Regions from separate parts of the Homo sapiens genome. Here region 2 is linked to region 1. Evidence: fine-mapped expression QTL. Tissue or cell type: whole blood. Region 1 holds a variant in brackets; the other region holds the start of a gene. All regions are shown on one strand. Distances are from middle to middle.

Region 1 (10,818 bases):
TCAGCAACAACGTGCTACACTGCTGTGTTTGCCTTACCTTCCTATGTGGAAATTAAGCCCAGTAGAGCTAGTAACTCAGGCTTTGACCTCTTTCTTGCTCTGTCAAGGCCTGAACTCCTGTCTTTTCCAATGATTTGACCCTGAGTCTCCCATTTCCTTTCACAGAATGAGGCCTGCTGGAGCCGACAGGGGATCTGTGTTGGGGATAGATGCTGCTGACAACCTGAAAAAGAATCCACCCTATGGCTCTGAAATTAACAGTGTTCAGCAGTCTTGTGGGCAGAGTGAGAGCACCTGCCCTCTGGAGCTGTCCTGGGGAGCCCCAGACCAGAGGAGTGAGGAGTGCCCTCTGTTGCAGGTGGGGGTGGCGGGACGGGAGTGTGGAGATCCAGAGTGGCCACCAGGCCATTGCTCAACCTAGTTCCTGCTCAGTCCCTCTGGGGCTGGCAGACTTCACAGTCCAGCTTGCTCTGGGGAGACCATATTCCGAAGGCGGCAGCATCCACCACCGTCCTGGGGCTCTGTCTTTCAAAGAGAAGCCTCTGTCCTTTTCAAAGACAGAACACCTGTGCTTGGCAGGCAAGAATAACATTGAGGGTGGGAAATCCCACTCTCCAAAATATTATAAAACAGAAAGTATGAAGGAATTAAAGTCCATTGAAAAAGTATCCTGAGACCGGGTGCAGTGTAGATGCCTGCAATTCTAGCACTTTGGGAGGCTGAGACAGGAGGATTGCTTGAGGCCATAAGTTTGAGACCAGCCTGGGCAACAAAAATGAGACCCAGTCTCTACAAAAAAATTTCAAAATTAGCCAAGCATGGTAGCTCGTGCTTGTAGTCCCAGCTACTCAGGAGGCTGAGGTGGGAGGATTGCTTGAGCCCAGGAGTTCAAGGTTACAGTGAGCTATGATTGTGCACTGCATTCCAGCCTGGGGAGCAGACTGAGTGGGTGGCCCTGTAGCAAAAAATAGAAAAGAAAAGAAAAGGTATCCTGGACTACCAGGAATGATGGTAATAATGATGCTAGCACTTATTAAGAATTTAATAGATGCCCTGAACTCAGCTCAGTGCTTTACATGAATTATCTCATTTAATTCAGGACACAATTGGAGATAGTTATGCTTTTTACCCCCATTTTACAGATTGGGAAACTGAAGTTACAGTGTTCTTCAAAGTCTTTCAACTAATAAGGTCTAATGATTTTATCCTGGAAGCACACATGGAAATTTTCTTGTTCTCTAGTCTTGGTAGGTAAAATTTGGGATATCTTGGCAGGTGTGACCTAAGTTATCACAAAGCATGTCCAATTATTGGGAAAGAAGATGATGTTAGTTACTGGGTGGTGGTGGTGGGAGGGGTGGTCTAGCTAATGACTGGCATTTTAAACTAGAATCATTAAGATCCATTATTAATCTTCATTTCATTCATTTTTATCTATTTATCCTTCTATTCATTAATTCAATCAATAAAAACTTATTTGTGGGCGGCAAGCCACCCAGGTGCCAAGGCAGGAGACTGAGGGTATGAGCTGTTCCAGTATAATAAAATATATAAAATAAGAATAGTTATAGTAGATATAGATCTTAGATATGATTATATATGAATAACAATCATTAATTTGTAGCAATAATTCTTTATTCCAATATTATAATAATCCTTGCTCTACAATCATAACCTAGGAAAAACCAGGCCACACAGAGATAGGAACTGAGGGGACATAGTGAGAAGTGACCAGAAGACAAGAGTGTGAGCCTTCTGTTATGCCCAGACAGGGTCACCAGAGGGCTCCTTGGTCTAGCGGTAACGCCAGCATCTGGGAAGACACCCGTTGCCAAGCGGACCGTGGTCTAGCGGTAGCATCAGTGTCAAGGAAAAACATCTGCTACTTAGCAGACTGGGAAAGGGAGTCTCCCTTTCCCTGGGGGAGTTTAGAGAAGACTCTACTCCTCCACCTCTTGTGGAGGGCCTGACATCAGTCAGGCCCGCCTGCAGTTATCCAGAGGCCTAACAGTCTCCCTGTGATGCTGTGCTTCAGTGGTCATGCTCCTAGTCCACCTTCATGTTCCATCCTGTACACCTGGCTCTGCCTTTTAGATAGCAGTAGCAAATTAGTGAAACTACTAAAAGTCTCTGATAAGCAGAAATAATGGCATAAGCTGTCTCTCTCTCTCCTCTCTCTCTCTCTGCCTCGGCTGCCAGGCAGGGAAGGGCCCCCTGTCCAGTGGACATGTGACCCACGTGACCTTACCTATCATTGGAGATGGCTCACACTCCTTACCCTGCCCCTTTGTCTTGTATCCAATAAATATCAGCGCAGCCTGGCATTTGGGGCCACTACTGATCTCTGCGTCTTGGTGGTAGTGGTCCCCCAGGTCCAGCTGTCTTTTCTTTTACCTCTTTGTCTTGTGTCTTTATTTCTACACTCTCTCGTCTCTGCACATGGGAAGAAAGCCCATCAACCCTGTGGGACTGGACCCTACACTTATTGATAACTCAGTGTATGTCATGGATTGTGCTAATGGCTAGGGATGCAAAAAAGAGTCATACTCCATCCCCATCCTCAAGACATTCCTGGTCCAGTGCTGCCGGCAATAGTCAGAGGCCAAAGTCCCATAAGAAAGTGGCCTTCTGGCCCACTGACTTCTTCCCCAGGTCCGCCTAGAAATCTAACTGGGTTCAAGTCAGGCAAAACATGTACAACTTTATGATTTCTTGTCTGATGGAAATCCCCTGGACTTTTCCCTTTTTGTATTGGATGGATTTTAGTTCTCCTGGACATGCCAAAGCGGGTACGTGGCACCCCACAGCCATGAAGCCTTGGGCCCCTGCACCTGGTGCTTAGGTTCAGGGAGCCTCAGGAAGTCTTTCTCCTGACCTGACTCTCTTGTCTTAGGACACAATCTATGGGAAACTTCTCCCACAATACAAAGCCCAAACGCAAGAGAAGGGGCCAGCCTAAACCCAGCCTGGAGACATCAGCGTAGGGATCCACTGGGCACATACTGTCCTTGAGGTTTAGCCACCTGGCAACATGCTGGGCTGCTGCCGCCCTCCTCTTCTCCCCAGCCAGCCCTCACCAGGGTCTACAGGAAGTGGTTGCTCCCATAAGCTGTGTAGGCAGATGTTCCTGTGAGTGCTTCTCTCTGTCTCAGAAAAGGGAGTCAGGGCAGGAGATGTTCCTGCCATGCCTTCCAAATGGCAGATTTCCCTGCTGTTTCAATGAGGTCTCATGGCTTTCTGGATGTCAACTCTTCTCTCCTATACTCTAAGAAGTACAGAGATGGGCCAGTACTCTAAGAATCCAGACACTATTGTAAAATTCTCCCTACTTCCATTCAGCCAGGGAGCTCCTGGTCTGTTCCTTTGAGTTCTTGTTCCCTCAGTTCTTCTCTGGAAAGGCTGCCTCTGCCTGGATAGACCAGGCCCAAGATGCGTAGATGAATCAGACACATCCCTGCCCTTGAGGGCTGTCACAGGTCTCAGTGAAGACCTACAATAGAGCAGGGAATTGAGAAGGCTTGGAGGGAGGCAGGAGTAGGGTAGGAAACAATACAAAGGGAGGGAAGAGAAGGTGATGCTGGAGGTGCACCAGGAAGGAAATGGCAGTGATATGGTTTGGATCTGTGTCCCCATCCAAACTCATGTTCAATTGTAATGCCCAGTGTGAGGCTTGATGGGAAGTGATTGGATCATGGGGGCAGAATTCTCATGAATGGTTTAGCACCATCACCCCCCCTTGGTACTGTATAGCAAGTGAGTTCTCACGAGATCTGGTTGTTTAAAAGTGTGCAGCACCTGCCCCCCGACTTCCTCCTGCTTCATCCATGTAAGACGTGTCGGCTTCCCCTTCACCTTCCGCCATGATTCTAAGTTTCCTGAGGCCTCCCCAGAAGCAGAAGCCACTGTGCTTCCTGTATAACCTGTAGAACTGTGAGCCAATGAAACCTCTTTTCTTTATAAATTATCAGTCTCAGTTATTTCTTTATAGTCATGCGAGAACGAACTAATACAGTGTTGGGAACAGGCCCCCAAATCTGGCCATAAACTGGCCCCAAAACTGGCCATAAACAAAATCTTTGCAGCACCATGACATGTTCATGATGGCCATGATGCCCACGCTGAAGGTTGTGGGTTTACCAGAATGAGAGCAAGGAACACCTGGCCAACCCAGGGCAGAAAACTGCTTAAAGGTGTTCCTGAACCACAAACAATAGCATGAGCAATCTGTGCCTTAAGGACATGTTCCTGTTGCAGGCCCATCCCTTTATTTCGGCCCATCCCTTTATTTTCTGTAAGGAACGCTTTTAGTTAATCTACAATCCATAGAAATAA[C/T]GCTTATCACTGGCTTGCTGTCAATAAATATGTGGGTAAATCTCTGTTCGAGGATCTCAGCTCTGAAGGCTGTGAGACCCCTGATTTCCCACTCCACATGCTATATTTCTGTGAGTGTGTATCTTTAATTCCTCTAGCACCACTGGGTTAGGGTCCCCATGACTGAGCTGGTCTTGGCAATACAGAAAATTGTTACTGAGAAATGGGACATTGCTATAAAAATGCCTGAAAATGTGGAAGCGGATTTGGAACTGGATAATGGGCAGAGGCTGGAAGAGTGTGGAGGGCTCAGAAGAAGACAAGAAAATGAGGGAAAAATTGGAACTTCCTAGAAATTTGTTGAATGGTTGTGACCAATATGCTGATAGTCATATGGACAGTGAAGTTCAGGCTGAGGAGGTCTCAGATGGAGATGAGGAACTTATTGGGAACTGGAGCAAAGGTCACCTTTGTTATGCATTAGTAAAGAGGTTGCCTGCATTATGCCTCTGCCCTATGGATCTGTGGAACTTTGAACTGGAGAATGATGATTTATGGATCTGGCTGAATAATTTTTCTAAGCAGCAAATTGTTCAACAAGTGGTCTGGCTGCTTCTAACAACCTATGCTCATGTGCACGAGCAAAGAAATAACTTGAAGCTGGAATTTATATTTAAAAGGGAAGCAGAGCATAAAAGTTTGGAAAATTTTCAGCCTGGCCATGTGGTAGAAAAGAAAAGCCCATTTCCAAAGGAACAGTTCAAGCCAGATGCAAAAATTCGCATTACTAAAAGGAAAGCAAGAGCGAATAGCCAAGGCAATGGGGAAAGGGCCTCCAAGGCATTTCACAGACCTTCATGGCAGCCCCTTCCATCACAGGCCCGAAGGCCTAGGAGGACAGAACGGTTTGGTGTGCCAGGCCCAGGGCCCTGCCACCATGAGCGGCCTGAAGACACTGTTCCCTGCATCCTGGCTGCTTTAGCTCCAGCCTTAGCTCAAAGCAGCCCAGGTACAGCTCAGGCTGCTGCTTCAGAAGGTGCAAGCTATGAGCCTTCACAGCTTCCACATGGTCTTAAGTCTGTGGGTACTCAGAGTGCTAGAGTTGAGGTTTGGGACCCTCCACCGAGATTTCAGAGGATGTATGGAAAAGCCTGAATGTCCAGGCAAAAGCCTGCTGCAGGGGCAGAGCCCTCACTGAGAATTTCTACTAGGGCAGTGCAGAGGGGAAAGGTGGGGTTGGAGCCCCCACACAGAATCCCCACTGGGGCACTGCCTACTGGAGCTGTGAGAAGAGGGCCACCATCCTCCAGACCCCAGAATGGTAGATCCACTGACAACTTACACCATGCACCTAGAAAAGCAATGTGCACTCAACAACAGTTAATGAGAGCAGCCACAGGGGCTATTCCCTGCAAAGCCATAGGGCTGGAGCTGCCCAAGATCTTGGGAACCACTCCTTGCATCCAGTGTGCCCTGGATATGGGACATGGAGTCAAAGGAGATTATTTTGGAGCTTAAGATTTAATGACTGCCCTGCTGGGTTTCAGACTTGCATGTGGCCTGCAGCCCCTTTCTTTTGGCTTATTTCTCCCTTTTGGAATGGGAGTATTTACCCGATGCTTGTACCTTCATTGTATCTTGGGAATAACTAACTTTTTTTTTTAATTTTACAGGCTCATAGGTGGAAGGGACTAGCTTTATCTCAGATAAGACTCGGACTTTGTGCTTTTGAGTTAATGCTGGACACAGTTAAGACTTTGGGGACCATTGAGAAGGGATGATTCTGTTTTGGAATGTGAGAACATGAGATTTGGGAGGGGTCAGGGACAGAATCATATGGTTTGGATCTGTGTCCCCATCCAAATCTCATATTCAATTGTAATCCCCTACGTTGGAAGTGGAGCCTGGTGGGAGGTGATTGGATGGATCATGAGGGCAAAGTTCTCATGAATGGTTTAGCAGCATCCCCACCTTGGTACTGTATAGTGAGTGAGTTCTCATGAGATCTGGTTGTTTAAAAGTGTGTAGCACCTCCCTGCTATCTCTCTTCCTCCTGCTTAATCCACATAAAATGTGGCTGCTACCCTTTCACCTTCCGCCATGATTCTAAGTTTCCTGAGTCTTCCCCAGAAGCAGAAGCTGCTTTGCTTCCTGTTTAATTGGGTAATTTATAAAGAAAAGAGGTTTAATTGGCTCACAGCCCTGCCAATTAAACCTCTTTTCTTTATAAATTACCTAGTCTCAGGAATTTCTCTATGGCAATGTGGGAATGGGCTAATACAGGTGGCTAGAATATTCTCCAAGGGGAGGAACACCTGGGAACAGCAATGAGAACGGTGAGAAGCCTGGTGTAGCTACAGGAGGTGTAAGAAATTCACCCAGGCCGCTGGGGTTAAGCTCTGAGAGTTGTGGCTCACTGGTCCCTCTCAACTCGGACTCCCCCATCTGTAAGATGGGGATCCTCCAGATTAGGGTTGTGGTTGTGATGGTTAAGTGGGTCAGTACATGAAAAGGACAGAACAGTTCCTGGATGGGTGTAAGCACTATGCATGTGTTAGCTGGTGTTATGACTCTTATCCTCATGTCATGCCCAAAGATGTCAAGACTCAGCAATACATATTTTCTGAATGAATTTGTAAATGAGGCCTAGTTACATCAGTATAAATGTGTGTACTTCATAGACCTGCGAGCTGCAGGGGTATTGGAAAGAAGTCTTAACAATTAAAAAATAATAGGTATAATTTTTGGAGTTTCTACTATATACAAAGCATACATTTACATTTACTTCTTCTCTCTCACCAAAGATAAAAAGCTGATGATTATTCTCAATATAAAGATGAGGAAATTGAAGCTCAAAGACCTCTTCTTTTGGTCAGGATGCTGTTCTCTGCCTAGAATATAGGCTACTGATGATCATGCTACAAATTTTATTCTGAAAGGCAATTTTCTCTACTGGTTTTAGACATAATACAACTAAAGGAAAAAAGTGTTTTTGAAGATGCTTACAAGTTGGTCAGGCTTGGTAGCCATTCAATGAGAAAAGCAGAAAAAGACCTCACAGCTACCTCTGTCTTAAGAAGGAGTTCATGAGTCCAACTACCTGAGGTCAGAGCTGATGATCATAATTTATCGATGCTTCAGTGGGCCCAGGTGGACCTGGCCATGGAGGCCGATCTGCCTGTCTGGGCCCTCATGTTCCTGTTCAGTACACATACAGGTGGTGATAGGGAGGTGGAAACCCTGGCAAGGCAGATAAAAGAGCTCCGGTTTTAGAGTGAGTCAGACCTGAATTCAGAGCTGGCTCCGTCACTTACGCACTGTGCCATCTTGCACAGTTAACATTTTAGAAGTAAACTAAATGGTGATAATAATAACATGCCATAGAATTGGCATAAGGATGGAAGATAATGTATGCAAAAAATAATAAACATAGGCATAGACTCTGCCTTTCCATCATAATTACATTAATATAAAATTTTAAATTATTAGCTGCTTTTCAACTATGGGCAAACATTTGAAGCTTGATGATGTGCAGTGTTGGCAAGGCTCTGGCGAAACAGGTGCCATCATGTACTCTTAGTGGGAGTCTAAATTAGTGCAGCAGCTGTGAAAGGCAATTTGGTATTAGAAATCAAATTTTTTAATGCATATACTTTTTGATGTAGCAATTCCACTGCTCTGAATTTATCCTGTGAATATATTAATTTTAATTAGAGTATTGGATTGATTGCCATAATTGAGAACCCAAATAATAGTGGCTTAAACACAACAGAGGTATATTTCTTTCTGGACATAGTAGCCCAGCTTAATCAACCTACAGCTGTTGGTGTGGGAGTGTGTGATTCTGTGTTGTTGTGGGCCCAGGGTTCATATTTTGTTGCTCTGCTATCCTAGACTGCTATCCTCATCTGCATAATATAAAAGAGCTCCCCTCCACATCCACACTCCAGCCTGGGCCAATGGGGAAAGGTATGCAGCCACACTTCTTCCCTGTAAAGCCGCAATCCCAGAGTCACACGCATTGCTTCTGCTATGTCCCACTGACCAGCACTTAGTTGCTTGGTCATACCTGAATGCAGGACTGCCGAGAAATGTAGTCTTTATTCTGGGAGCCATGTCCCTATAGGTTGAGCATCTCAAATACAAAAATCTGAAATCTGAAATGCCCCCAAATTTGAAACTTTTTGAGCACCCACATTACACTCAAAGGAAATGCTCATTGGAGAATTTCAGATTTTCAGATTTGGGATATGCAACCAGTGTGCAACTATTCCAAAATCCAGAAGAAAATGGAAATCCAAAACACTTCTAGTTTCAAGCATTTCAAATAAATGTACTAAAATTCAGAGATGTTATATGACACTCATATATACAGGCAAAGATGTAAGCATAAGGATGCTCACTGCAGCATTTTTGTAACTGAAAAACCCTAGTAACAGTATGAATGATATCTACATTTACTTCTTCTCTCTCACCAAAGATAAAAAGCTAATTAGTAGGGGACTGATTAGAAAAAAAAAGACACGTTTGTTCAGTGGAACACTATGCAGCAGTTAAAAATGAATGTGGTAGGCTGCGCGTGGTGGCTCATGCCTGTAATCCCAGCACATTGGGAGGCTGAGGAGGGTGGATCACCAGGTCAGGAGATCCAGACCATCCTGACCAACATGGTGAAACTCCGTCTCTACAAAAAATACAAAAATTAGCCAGGCGTGGTTGTGCACACCTGTAGTCCTAGCTACTCGGGAGGCTGAGGCAGGAGAATCACTTGAACCAGAGAGGCAGAGGTTGCAGTGAGCCGAAATCGCACCACTGCACTCCAGCCCGGTGACAGAGCAAGACTTCGTCTCAAAAGAAAAAAAAAAAATTTGATGATAAAACCTGTTAATGTATGTAAAAGCCACGACACCTACCACATATCTGGGATGCAGCGCATACAGTCCAGTTTTCTATAGATTCCCTTTTCCCCAGCCCTTCAGAGCCAACCATTCCTTAGAGATTTGGATAACTGTCATTTAAACCTGCATCCTGGGAGCTTCAGGAAGCCCTGTGTCCTTCAAGCACATTTGAGCCTCCTTAGAGATCCTCTGAGTGTCTGTTGTCACCCTGGCAGTGAACTGTGGGATACAGCCTGCCCCATCCCCTCCAGCCAGCTCATCCGCCCCACTCCAGGCTGCTTTCTCTTCCCAGCCTGCTGCCCTGCTTGTCCATGCACAGGACTGACCAGGCTTTGGCCAGCTCTTGCTGGATGAAAATGGGTCTAACCTCAGAGAATTAGAACAAAGAGGAGAAGGACTGAAAACTCCTTACGGGATCAAAGAAATGTGACTTCGGCAATTTATTTAACCCCTCTAAACCTCTGATTCCTCATGTGTAAAATGGGAGTGATAGAAATAATATCTATTTCCCAAGGTTGTGAAGGAGTAGGGAGAATATGTGTACAACTGTTATGTTCTATGTCTCCAGTGTGCAGTATTTGTAAGGACACATTTCATCTACTATTCAGAATAGATGGCTTGGTCATCTGTGTCACTATCATGACCTGAGCCTTCTGCTCCTGGGGGGTCCTTCCCTGATAAATCCACTACCCCCAGGGTCAGAATCAGCTGAAGGCATCAGGTCCTGATTGCAATTTCCTTCTGGAGAGGAACTTGGAGAATCTCACCAGCCTGCCATAGAGTAGGAATCTGGGTGGTTGCTGTCACTTGAGTCGCACTGGAACTCTGGGCTACTCCTGCACTGTCCTCCTCTCTTGCCTTGTTGACCGGTGGAGAGCTAGCTAGGCACCTCACTGCAGCCAGGGCTCCTGCTGGCTGCTGCAAGCCCTGTCCACCATGGCCTCCATTTCTTCTGGACAATGAGGATGGGGGCGGGGTGGCCATGACTGCAGAATGTGCAGAATTCACATTCCTCCACTCCACCTCCCCCATCTGCGTGGCCTTGGCTGGGGGTTGCTGGTTGTAAGCACCAAGGCTTGAGTGTGTTCTTTAATTACTTAGCTCTTTGACCTCTTTCTCTCTCCTCCCTCTCTCTCTTTTTTTTTTTTTTTTTTTTTTGAGACGGGGTCTTGCTCTGTCACCCAGGCTGGAGTGCAGTGGCACGATCTCGGCTCACTGCAACCTCCACCTCCCAAGTTCAAGTGATTCTCCTGCCTCAGCTTCCCCAGTAGCTGGGATTACAGGTGCCCGCCACCCCACCTGGCTGATTTTTGTATTTTTTTTTTTAGTAGAGACAGGGTTTCACCATGTTGGCCAAGCTGGTCTCGAACTCCTGACCTCAAGTGATGTACCCGCCTCGACCTCCCAAAGTATTGGGATTACAGGCATGAGCCACTGCACCCAGTTTCTCACCTCTCTTTCTTTCTTACACACATACACACAGGTGCGCTCACACGTGTGCGGGCACACACACACACACACACACACACACACGGTTCTTTTCTACAGTGCCAGTAAATTTCTTACGAAACTGTTGCTGACTTCAGCCACATCCAGAAATTCCTCACCC
Region 2 (10,818 bases), 170 kb after region 1:
AGTAGCTGCGACTACAGGCACGCGCCACCATGCCTAGCTAATTTTTGTATTTTTAGTAAAGATGGGGTTTCACCATGTTGGCCAGGATGGACTCGATCTCTTGACCTCATGATCCACCTACCTCAGCCTCCCAGAGGGAACCGGTTTTGAGAGGGATATCTGGAGTTCAGGAGGGCACTGGTTTTTGGGGGAATATTTGGAGCTCATCAGTTTTAAACATGTGAAATTTGAAATACCTAGTACATAATCAATTGCAGATGTTGAGTAGCAGATGGATGTACAAATCTGGAGATGGGGGAGATGACTAGCCTGGAGGTGTAAGTTTGGGAGTATTTAATGTATAGATGGTATTTAAAACTATCAGACTGGTGAGCTCACCACAGAGTGAAAAGAGACCATAAAGAGATGTCCAAAGTCTGAGTCCTGGAGCCTCCTATGTTGAGAGGTTCAAGACTAAAAAGACCAGAAAGGTAGGATAAGAACTAGGATAGACTCTTGGCTCAGAAGCCAAGGGAAGAAAACATTTCAAGAACCAGCATGGTTGACCTCTTCCCTGCTGCTGAGGGCTCCAGCCAGGTGAGCTTGGAAGTTGAGCACCAGATTTAGCAATAAGGCAGTCACTGATGCCCCTGAGAAGACCTGTTGCTGTGGAGTAGTGGGGGTGAAAGGCTGCTCAGAGTGGATTCATGGGAAGGGAAGGATAGGAATTGAAGACACCAAGCATGGAAGAGCCTTTTGAAGATTCCAGTTATAAAGTGAAGCAGGGGGAGACATAAAATTTAGGAAGCATTTTAGTTTTTACCACGGCAGATATTCCAGTATGCTTGTAAGCCCTTAGAAGTGAAGCAGTAGAGAAGGAAAATTTGCTGATTCAAGAGAGAGTGGGGACAGTTGCTGAATCAATGTCCCTGAGTTAGAGGTGATGGCACTAATGCACAGACCGAGGCTAATCTTGGCTAAGAGCACCAAGAGTTCATAAATGACAGGAAGGACAGAGGAGTATATGCAGACAGATGCAGGCAGGTTGGTAGACAAGAGTGATAGAGAGGGTATGTGTGTTCAGTTCTCTTCTGATTATTTCTATTTTACCAACAAAAGAGGGAGCAAGGCCATTAGCTAGAAGTACTAGGCAGAGGTTTGATTAAGGAGGAGAAGATGTGAAACAGTCCTTTAAAGAGGAGGGAAGAGCACAGGGAAGTATAGTAGTTTTGCTGTTAATTGATTAACAGAACGTTATAATTATTTATAACAACGTTATAAAGTAGTTGGTGTTTTAAACTTGTAATGAATACTACTATGTAAATGAGAGAAGGGGCATTTGCTAAGGAATCCAGTATTCATGTAAACAGAGTTACATCAATAAGGCTAAAATAATAACACCCTAAAATTAAAACAACATGGGATATCATTTAATCCTGAATAATTTTGAGGGCACTTTGGACCTTTGTAATGATTTAGAGTAATCTTTCTAAATATCACTTAGAATAATGCCCTGCAGATGTACAGCTACTGGAGTTCTGAATAGGCCAGTTAAATCAGATTTTAAATGTAAAACATGCAAATGTGAGTCAGTGTTTATAATATTAAAAAATACATAAAATTTGTATGGTAGGCCTCTGTGTCAAAATTCATTCTATATTTGGTATACACTATACATTAGGGTGTTTTGTTGAGTAGAGGTAAATAACCAGAGGGAAATGAATTCACCTGGGTTTTAACGAAATAAGAAGCAAATAGGGAGGGAACAACATAGCAAATGACTAGATGTTCTTATCACTAGAAAGGTTACATATCCTTTGTGTTGGAGGGCAAAGGCAAGGGGTTGAGCAGAGATGGGTAGAGGAGCCAAGACAGTGGACAGGAAGTGGACTGAGATCTAGTCTGTGCTCTTGGCAAACTCTCCATTCCGCATTTCCCTCTTCTGCTGCCTGACATCTGCTATTTTGAAACCTAGGAAGGTCAGGAAGATACAGCAGGAGTGACTGACCTAGAGAATGTGCAGTTGGAAACTAGGCTTTGGTAGCTTTCACTTTTTATCTCCTTTAGAAACACGGATGAAAGTTCTGCCATCAGTGAGGGATAAATAGTAGCCCAGGGCCTTGAAAAAGCAGTTTTAGATCCCTGGGACAATTTCTACTATTTTACTATGTCTGAAGATTAGGGAGGTTATTTTTGTAATTTGAGGCCAACACCCATCTCTTGAGCCTTATATGAAGCACTGAAGAATGTTAATAGATTTGGCTAGCATTTGGGTCAATTATTTCAAATGGCTATCTGGGAGTCATAAAACAGATGGTCCTGAAATTGTACTGCGTTGGTGGATGTAGATTGGCAGCCATCTTTTAAGGGCAAAATTATGTTAAAAGCTAAGCCAGAACAAATGAGCAACAACTGATTTATAATATTTTGCAATGTTATGAAAAATGGTTCCTTAAAACAGATTCACAGGACTGATGGTGATGTTCCATTGTGTTTCTTTGTGAAAATGTGATATTAAACACACCAGTAAATGAATCTGAGGCCCTCCGTCCTTCCCCTCCTCCCTCCCTCCCTTCCTTCCTTCCACAGATCTAGTCTTCGCTCCTTCCTTCCTTCCTTCCTTCCTTCCTTCCTTCCTTCCTTCCTTCCTTTCCTTCCTCCCTCCCTCCCTCTTTCCTTATAGTTATTTTGGGAGTATGGATGTATTTAGTTTGGGTCTTTGGTTTTAATTAGAGTATTTATTAAATAACAAGGAATCTGCTTTGAGTTAGTGTAAAAGCAAATCATGAACTATAGATTACCTTTGAAATTACTGTAACATGGTCAATATTTTTGTTGTTTTTGTAGTTGGGACAAGATAAATTTTAAAATAAAATTGTCAACATTTAAAGAAAATTGTCAACATATAGCTACTCTTTGTGAAACTGACCTACTATAAGATGAAACTTTTTTTATCATTTGCTGTAAAAGGAAGATTTGTTATTTATTGGAAAATTTTATAGGTCTAAGAGCTCTTATATTAAATTATATATATATATATATATATATATATACTCACACATACATATGTGTATATATATTTAGATGCAGGATCTCACTGTGTTGCTCAGGCTGGAGTGCAGTGGTGTGATCAGAGGTCACTGCAGCCTTTAACTCCTGGGCTCAAGTGATTCTCAAGCCTCGGCCTCCTGAATAGCTGGGACTACAGGTGCATGTCAGTATACCTAGCTAATATTTTTTATTTTTGTAGATACAGGGTCTCTCTATGTTGCCCAGGATAGTCTCAAACTCCTGGCTTCAAGCAGTCTTCCCACCTGGGCCTCCCAAAGTGCTGGGATTATGCATGTGAGCCACCATGCCGGCCAGCTATAGAATTTTAAAGCTGTAATAACCTAACATGTGGGGTACCCCCCACAGATGAAGAATCAGAGAGATTAAATAACTTCTCAAGGAGACTCAATTATTAGTGGCACAGAAAAACGTAAACCCTAGTTTGCTGACTTTGTCTAGTATCACTTAGGTTTCTAATACACAAACTTTCATTGACAGGATTTAAACTTGCAAGTGACTTACAAGTTTTGACTGCCTAGTCCTCATATGCTTAGGTTATGCTTTAGGTTTCTAGTTCTGTGGGACTGAGTTAAATAATGGTTTCCCCATGTTCATGGATAGGAATTTTAAAAATTGAGATATAATCCACATACAATGGTATCTATTTTTACTCATTCATTTTGAAATCTAAAGTTTAACTTCTATTCATAATATCCATTTTACTTAGGCAGTGAGTATATAATAACCCTCACCTCAGAAAAGTTTCTACAGTTAAAAGACACGGGCTGAGGAGAGTTCATCTTCATCCTTACTAGCATTTTGGAGTACGTATAAAGGCGTCTGCGGATGCCTAATGATTAAAAAAAAAGTTCCCCTCACCATGGTGAATAGGGTTTTTACGAGAAAAATATGGAGAAAGCAGAGATTATTACCATTGAAAAAGACAAGGTGTTAACAGAAATGGGAGGGTAGCTTGATAGAGTCCAAACTTGACTGAACTCTCTAGGTTAGGGCCAAAGGCAAGTACTGAGGACAGGCATGGACTGTTGCGTTCAACTTGTCAAAAAAGTGGCCAATATGTAGTATGGACCAAGCCTATAGAGGCGCTGAGAATACAGAGATGAATGAGCCAGTTCCTGAAGGAGCCCAGTCTGCGTGTGTTTGCGAGTTGAGAAGAGGAGGAGGGAGGCAGCATGGGGAGTGTGGGGATGGAGGAATTAGATTGAAAGAGAAGGCCGAAAAACTGAATATATAGTAGAAATTTGGGGTGCAGATATGTGCTGCCTAGAAAGGCAGAAACCTGTCCCAGAACCTCTTAATACATTAGTCTCATTTGCCAAATTTGGCCAGATATCATGACTGTGGTCCTCTCGAGATGCCCTCTTGAATCGGCTTAAAAATTATCCTTCCGCAACCACCCCTAGCTTTCCCCACCGCCAGTGCGCCGGGCAGGTTGAAAACTGCACCCACGTTTGCAGCCTCTGCTCTCCGCAGGAGACAGGAATCCAGGGCTTTGCCGTCGTCATAGCAACCAGAAGTTCCGCGGTCCCCTACCCTCCCGCGACTTTTTCCACTTCCTCCGCCTGCAGGGCCCAGCCGCCGCTTCTCTCGCGAGACTTGTGCGCCGCGCTAAGCCGCTCCGTGGTGATCTCACCCGAGACTTGGGGGAGAGGGAGGAGTGAAGGAGGGGAAGGAATGGGGCGGGAGGCGGGGCGGGGAGGGGAAGGGCGAGTGAGGCGCCGCCACTGCCGGCAACTTTGTGAGCGAGTTCAGTGCGTGCGTGAGCGAGTGAGCGAAAAGTCAGTGCAGCGCCGAGTCCCCGGCTGGAGGGTCCCCGGGGAGGGCCAGGTCTGGGCCCCAGAGGCCGCCCCCGCAGCCACTCCATTCCCTCCCGCCTCTGTGGCTCCCTCCCCATTTCCTCCCCCACCGGTCGTTGGGGCCTTCCCGCCCCCGTCCGCACTTACCTGTCCCCTCCCCCATGCGGTACGCACCTCCTCATCCCCCCCCCGGCAACCTCGCGCCCACCTTGGACCTTCGGAGCCCGGACCCCCGCACTTGCTTCCCGTACTGGCCGCCCCCTCAGTTCTTTCTGCTGGCGGGCGGGATGGGGGCGCTGAGCCTCGGGGACGGCGCGAGCGGGGGCCCGGGCGCCTAGACAATAGTTGATGCCCAAGGACGGGGCCACCTCCGCCTTCCCCTCCTCCGGGAGCTCGGCCCCCGCCGGCCCCCCGCCAGCCTGTATTCCGGGTCCCCCTCGGAGCCAGCCTCGGGAATTGGGCTGATTCCACCCCCGCCTCCCTCGGGCCCCCCTCCGCTCCGCGCTCGGCGCCCGCCTCGGGCCGGCCTCGCCGCTCTCCGCAGAGGAGGCGGCGAGTGAGCGCGCGCCGGCCGTCTACACGGTTTCTCTTTCTCCCCAGGGAGAGCGCGCGGCGGACGCGCCCGGGACGCGCGGCGGCACCGGGAGGCCGGGCCGAGCGGTAAGTGGTCCCCGCGCCCGGGTCCTGGGGGGAGCGGGGGTGCAGGACGGCTGACAGCCCCCTGCCCTGTTTCTGGCCGGGGTTGGGGTCCAGGGCCCGGAGCAGGACCCCAGGAGGCCGGTTAAAGTTTGATTTTCGATTTGGTGGCTTGCTGGTAGCTTAGCCCGGCGGGGGCGAGTCCGGCTTCACCGCGCCCGGCGCGCGCGCACGCACCCCAGAACCCGAATCTGCACAACTACTGGGCAGGCGTCTCTGCGGGAGGCCAGGAGACCCGCGTCCCGGTCCGGGCGGTTGCGTCCACCCCGCTGAGCTGGTCGCCACCTGGCGACCCTTCCCCTCCAGTCACCTGGGTGAGCGCTTTGCAGCCTGAGCTGGAGTAGGCAGGCCGAGTTGGTTGAGTTGTGGGAAATGGAGACGAACAGCTCGGTGCCCGAGGGTGGTTAATTTCCCCTTTGGGGGTCTTGGGGACATGAAATTTTGGGATGCTCTAACCTGCTTTCCGGGGAGCGAGTAAACCGCGAAAGGGCTGGGAAGGCGTGAGGGTGCCGCAAAAAGAACTTTTCCTCCTTCGCCCCATCTGTTACCAGCTTCTCTCCTGACCTTAAAGGAAATTTCCGAGGCTCTTAAATCGCTCCACGGCATTTCTAGGTGGACCAGTAATCGTGTTGGGCAGGTTGAAATTTCATCGCGGTTTGGAGAACAGAGAGACATGGGAAATGGCTCACTTCCAAGGAAGATGTTTAGCTAAATTGTTGGCATTCGTTTTCTAAGAGAAGCATTTGGGGATTGATGGCTCCTAGACTACGATTACCTTATAGATTTTATTTTTCCTGACGGGTAGTTTAGAGGCAGCATTCGCTGAAATGCATACTACCTGTGAAACGATCATGTTTCTAAACTGGAGCCAGCGATGTGATGCAAATTTCAGAATAAAGGTGTCGACTTTCATCAGGTTCCAGGTCTATCTGGATGGACTGGGATTGGCGTTTCCTCTATAAAGCAAACCTTTCATGTTGAAACTCTGAGTCAGACTCTTAAAGCCATTGTCTTTATGCTGGTACTCTGTGGGAGTTAAGTGTCAACTTTCTCCTGTTTTCTCCTATGGAGTATCCGTCCAAGGCAAAGATTCTCTGACTGAATCTTTTGGAAACGTGCAAGGTTAGATCATACTGAATTCTGCAGCCAGTTTAGTAATAATATTAGTTTTCTATATAATCCTGATTTAACGACTGTCATTTTTCTCTTCGTTTTTTGAAAGCTGCAATTAAGCTACCTTTACCAGGATTTAAAAAAGAGGATAATATGGAACAGTGGTAATAACAGTAGGTCTCAGCTAATTTATTATGGCCACCGATGTGTCCAACTATTAGATGACATCCCAGTTATTAACTACAATATTAATATTAAAACATTTTTCCCATGGAATCAATTATGCTAAAGCATTAACAATTAACAGTGCATTTAAAATGATGAGTGATTGTTTCCACATAAATGGTTAGAGGCAAAATAAGAGATTTGGGGGATGAATGGCTTTATGTCTCTGACAACTAATTTTCTTATTAATGCTTAAGTAAAGGACTCTTGAAGTTGACTGTCATTTGATTTTTCTAGTTGACTGAGTGAACAAGTTTGGTGAGTGGCTTGAGACAGTCAGTAGGTGTTGCTGTTGTTAGCTTCTCTGCAGTTCCTGCTTCTGCTCCTCGAGTTTGAAATTGCAATTCTGGTACAGTGAACTTTTAAAATCTGAAGTATCAGTCAGTGATAGTTGTGATTTCATTGGAGGAGTCTATGGCAAGGTTGACTTCAACTCCAGGTAATAATTGCAAAGCACCTCTCTGATACTTTGTACTGAGATTCATTTAACTCTTCTTTTGTCTCTGTCCTTACACTAGTATTTTCAGGCTTCTGCATTTGCTTTGCTTTTGCTTTGAAGTATGTGTGTAATTTTGGTATAGTGCCCCCATCTTCATTGTTTAGGAACTTTTAAAAAACACTTTCTAGTGAGTTTATTGAAGTCATAGATTGAAGATTGCTTGAGATTAGCAGTTTTGTAGACTTCGGGGGGATCTTGGTTGAGTTGTGATGTATATATGTTCTATCTTAAGTTGCAATCTGAATTTTTAGATAAATGACTGTTTTTCTTTTTTTAAAAATCTGTTTGAGCTGTGAAATGGGAGCATGAGGAGAGCTGAAATGGTATGAGAGTGGAATTTGATGGAAAGTTTGTCATGATTAATAATGTGACTATGTGCCTCTTATCAGTCCTTACCGTTGTATTATCATTGTTATTGGTCCGTATCAGTGCACAAATGAAGTATGAATATCCTGAAGATTTTTTGTTGACATCTCAGATTTGAGCCTTTTGGTTCACTGACCATATTAGATTTTCTCTATGGAAGACAAATAGACTCATTCCCATAATAAAGAACTAGAGCGCTGATAGAGCACACTTTTTTTTTTCCCCTTTGGATCAAATCATGGAAGTTCAAATCTGAAAATAAATTCAGAAATTTCTTTTTTTCCCCATAGCATCCCTATATTCCTAACCTTTTGAGTGGTGAGTCAAGCAATATTTATTGAATGCTGCTATCTGGCAGGTGCACTTTTGGTTTCTGTGATTACAGTGATGAGCAAGAGTGTACCTGGCCACATGGAACTTGTAGTCCAGTGGGACCATTTGTAGTAATATTTTCTGGCATGGAGTTATGGTACCCTGATGCCCTCGTAAAGGTTATACATAATAGGCAATTATTTTTGAATTTTAATATATTTTAACATTTTGAAATAATGTAACCTAGAATTTGTCCTCAGAAGGTCTGGGTTTCAAATACCTGCCCTGCCATTTTCGTTGTGAGATATTGAAAAATAATTGAACTTCTTTCTGAACTTTACTGTTGTTTCCTGCGGAGATGGGCTCAAGACTTGCTTCACAGATGAGCTACAAAAATTGATGAGAATACATGTATGAAAGTACTTTGTAAACTATAAAGTCTTATTTGTAATAGGGTTTTCTTACTTTTTGTTGGACAGATTCATGGATTGTTGGAACTAGGAGGGATTTTGACTCATTTGGCTCATGTTTCCCATTTTACGTATGAGGAAACTGAAGCCCAGAAAGTTGAAGTGATTTGTTGAAGGTTATAGAACTGGTTAATGACTAGGCAGTGATTGGAAGACAGGTGTCCATATTTAATTGCACTCGTTTCTTTTCTTTTTTTCCTACCTTAGAGCCTGTTATGTTAAAATTTTACTACTTTCTCCCCCCACTTAAGAGTTCAGTATTTATTAAATATCCAAAATGAGGAGATGCAAAACTTAAGGAAACGAACGATCTGTGGTGAGGTTGTAAAGCTATGAAAACAACATTGGTAACCGAGCTTCATAATTAAATGACAAAGTTACAGAAAAAGAAAATATGAGTTAAAGTTTCTACATAGTAGAGCCTGTAGGCTTTTTTGTTTTGTTTCATTTTTAAAGAAATCTTTATTTGCACAGAGCATAATGTACTCTTTAGCTCTTTAGAAAAGCTAAACTCAGTTTATTTTGGTTCATCTTTTTCTTCTCTTTTTAAACTCATTTCCATTTGCGGAAGAAATTAGGTGTACCATCCTTGTTTCTGGACCATGGCCAACTAAATTTTAGACCTTTTTTCTCAGCGACATGTAAGGGTAACCAGAGATTGGGGCTGGGGGTGTTAGGTGGAGAGATAAAACAGGACATAAAACAGGAACGTGTAGGAGCTTCCTGTTGAAAATGGGACTGATTTATGTTGCGCCACCCTACCTTCCAGTGGAGTAATCTGAGCCAGCAGAGAAGAAACTTCCCTGCTGGTTGGGTGAATGCCCTTGAGGTGAGGGGGTTTCCTTCTTCCGGGAGAGATAAGCATTGTGGTATTCTGCCATTGCTCACACAGAAGTTTGGGTCTTATTCTACAGACAGACGCAGTAAAATAAGGGTGTTCCACTATCCCTTGAGACTGACAATCTGACCTTCTATCTGCTGCACTTCTACTTTTTTGGTATGGGAAATCAATTGGCCTCATTGAATTTTTGCTTTTAGTTTTTTTCTATGCCTAGCTAATCAAAAACAAAAACAAAACCCACATGCTTTGATGACACCTTGCTTTCAAAGGTTATATTTAAGTTAATTATTCTTAAATGATAGCTCATTTATTTTTATTCAGTGGACTGTTGATGAGCTCTGGAGTGAGTCTTAGAAGCATGGGAAAGATTTGTGGCTTCTGGGTCTTTTAAACATGGATGATTTGCATAAGGGACAGAGCAACACAGTGATTTGGTTTGTGATCATGAGGGTACAAAAAACCATCAGGGCAGATCTTTTAATGGTAGGTAATGTTCACCAGTCAACAACCATTTTCTCCTTTTATTCTGGCCTGGAGAGAGTAAGATAACCCCATTTGCAAATAGAACAGAGTGTTTTCTTAAAGGCATAGAGAGATGACACCAAAATGACATGGAGGGATGTCAGGAGCTGCTTTAGCTGGCCCGTAGTAAGTAGTAGTGCATTGGTGGGTGTGCCACAAAGTCAGGCGAAGCCATTTCTCTTTGCCTCTGGAGTCTGGGATGAGAAATTTCAACCTGTAGATTTCCAATTTGTTGCTTGTCATGTTGCACTAAGTTCTCCCTCTAATTAGGATTTAGTATGCCTAAGTTGAAATTGCGGGAAGCAGGCAATTACATAATGTTAGATTTCCCTTTTTCCAATTCAGGAAAGGCAGGAGAATGTGTGCTTGTTATGAATGCCAGCTTGGGGAGGGAGAATTGCTGGTTCACACAAACTCGGGGGTCACTCAAAGGCAACTTGAGCAGAACTGACAGCCAGTGCTGCTGCCATTGGATTCCTTTTTTCCTCTTTCCTCCCACAGAGCAGGTCTAGGTTAAATGAATTTCACAGATATGAAAGTTAATTGTGGTTATTTCTTTTCTCTTTCTACTTTTTCCACAAAGCCTTTTACCAAAGCTATGAACAGGTATAGTCATTGATGGTTTTGTGGTTCAGCGACTTGCTTCTTTTTTTTTTTTTTTGAGATGGAGTCTCGCTGTGTCACCCAGGCTGGAGTGCAGTGGCATGACCTCGGCTCACTACAACCTCTGCCTCCTGGGTTCAAGCGATTCTCCTGCCTCAGCCTCCCGAGTAGCTGGGATTACAGGCACACGCCGCCACACCTGGCTGATTTTTATATTTTTAGTAGAGGCAGGGTTTCGCCATGTTGGCCAGGCTGGTCTCAAACTCCTGACCTTAGGTGATCCGCCTGCCTCAGCCTCCCAAACTGCTGGGATTACAGGCAGGA

Evidence for each region. PIP is the estimated chance that this variant, and not a neighbour inherited with it, causes the effect.
Region 2: SIPA1L1 starts here. The variant in region 1 is fine-mapped to the expression of SIPA1L1 in whole blood (TOPMed, PIP above 0.99).

What each region holds. Positions count from the first base shown.
Region 1 is chr14:71,145,740-71,156,557 of GRCh38, forward strand. No RefSeq gene overlaps it. Among named protein-coding and RNA genes, the nearest start is that of SIPA1L1, 170 kb to the right of the region's middle. The variant C/T (reference allele first, on the strand shown) is at 4,333.
Region 2 is chr14:71,315,675-71,326,492 of GRCh38, forward strand. It overlaps SIPA1L1 (signal induced proliferation associated 1 like 1), which reads left to right and starts at 4,802. Exons shown (of 24, transcript NM_001386936.1): 1 at 4,802-4,829; 2 at 5,448-5,507. SIPA1L1-AS1 (SIPA1L1 antisense RNA 1) reads right to left here and starts at 6,174. Exons shown (of 4, transcript NR_184180.1): 1 at 6,000-6,174. RefSeq lists enhancers at 4,281-4,440, 9,128-9,427 and a silencer at 4,701-5,720.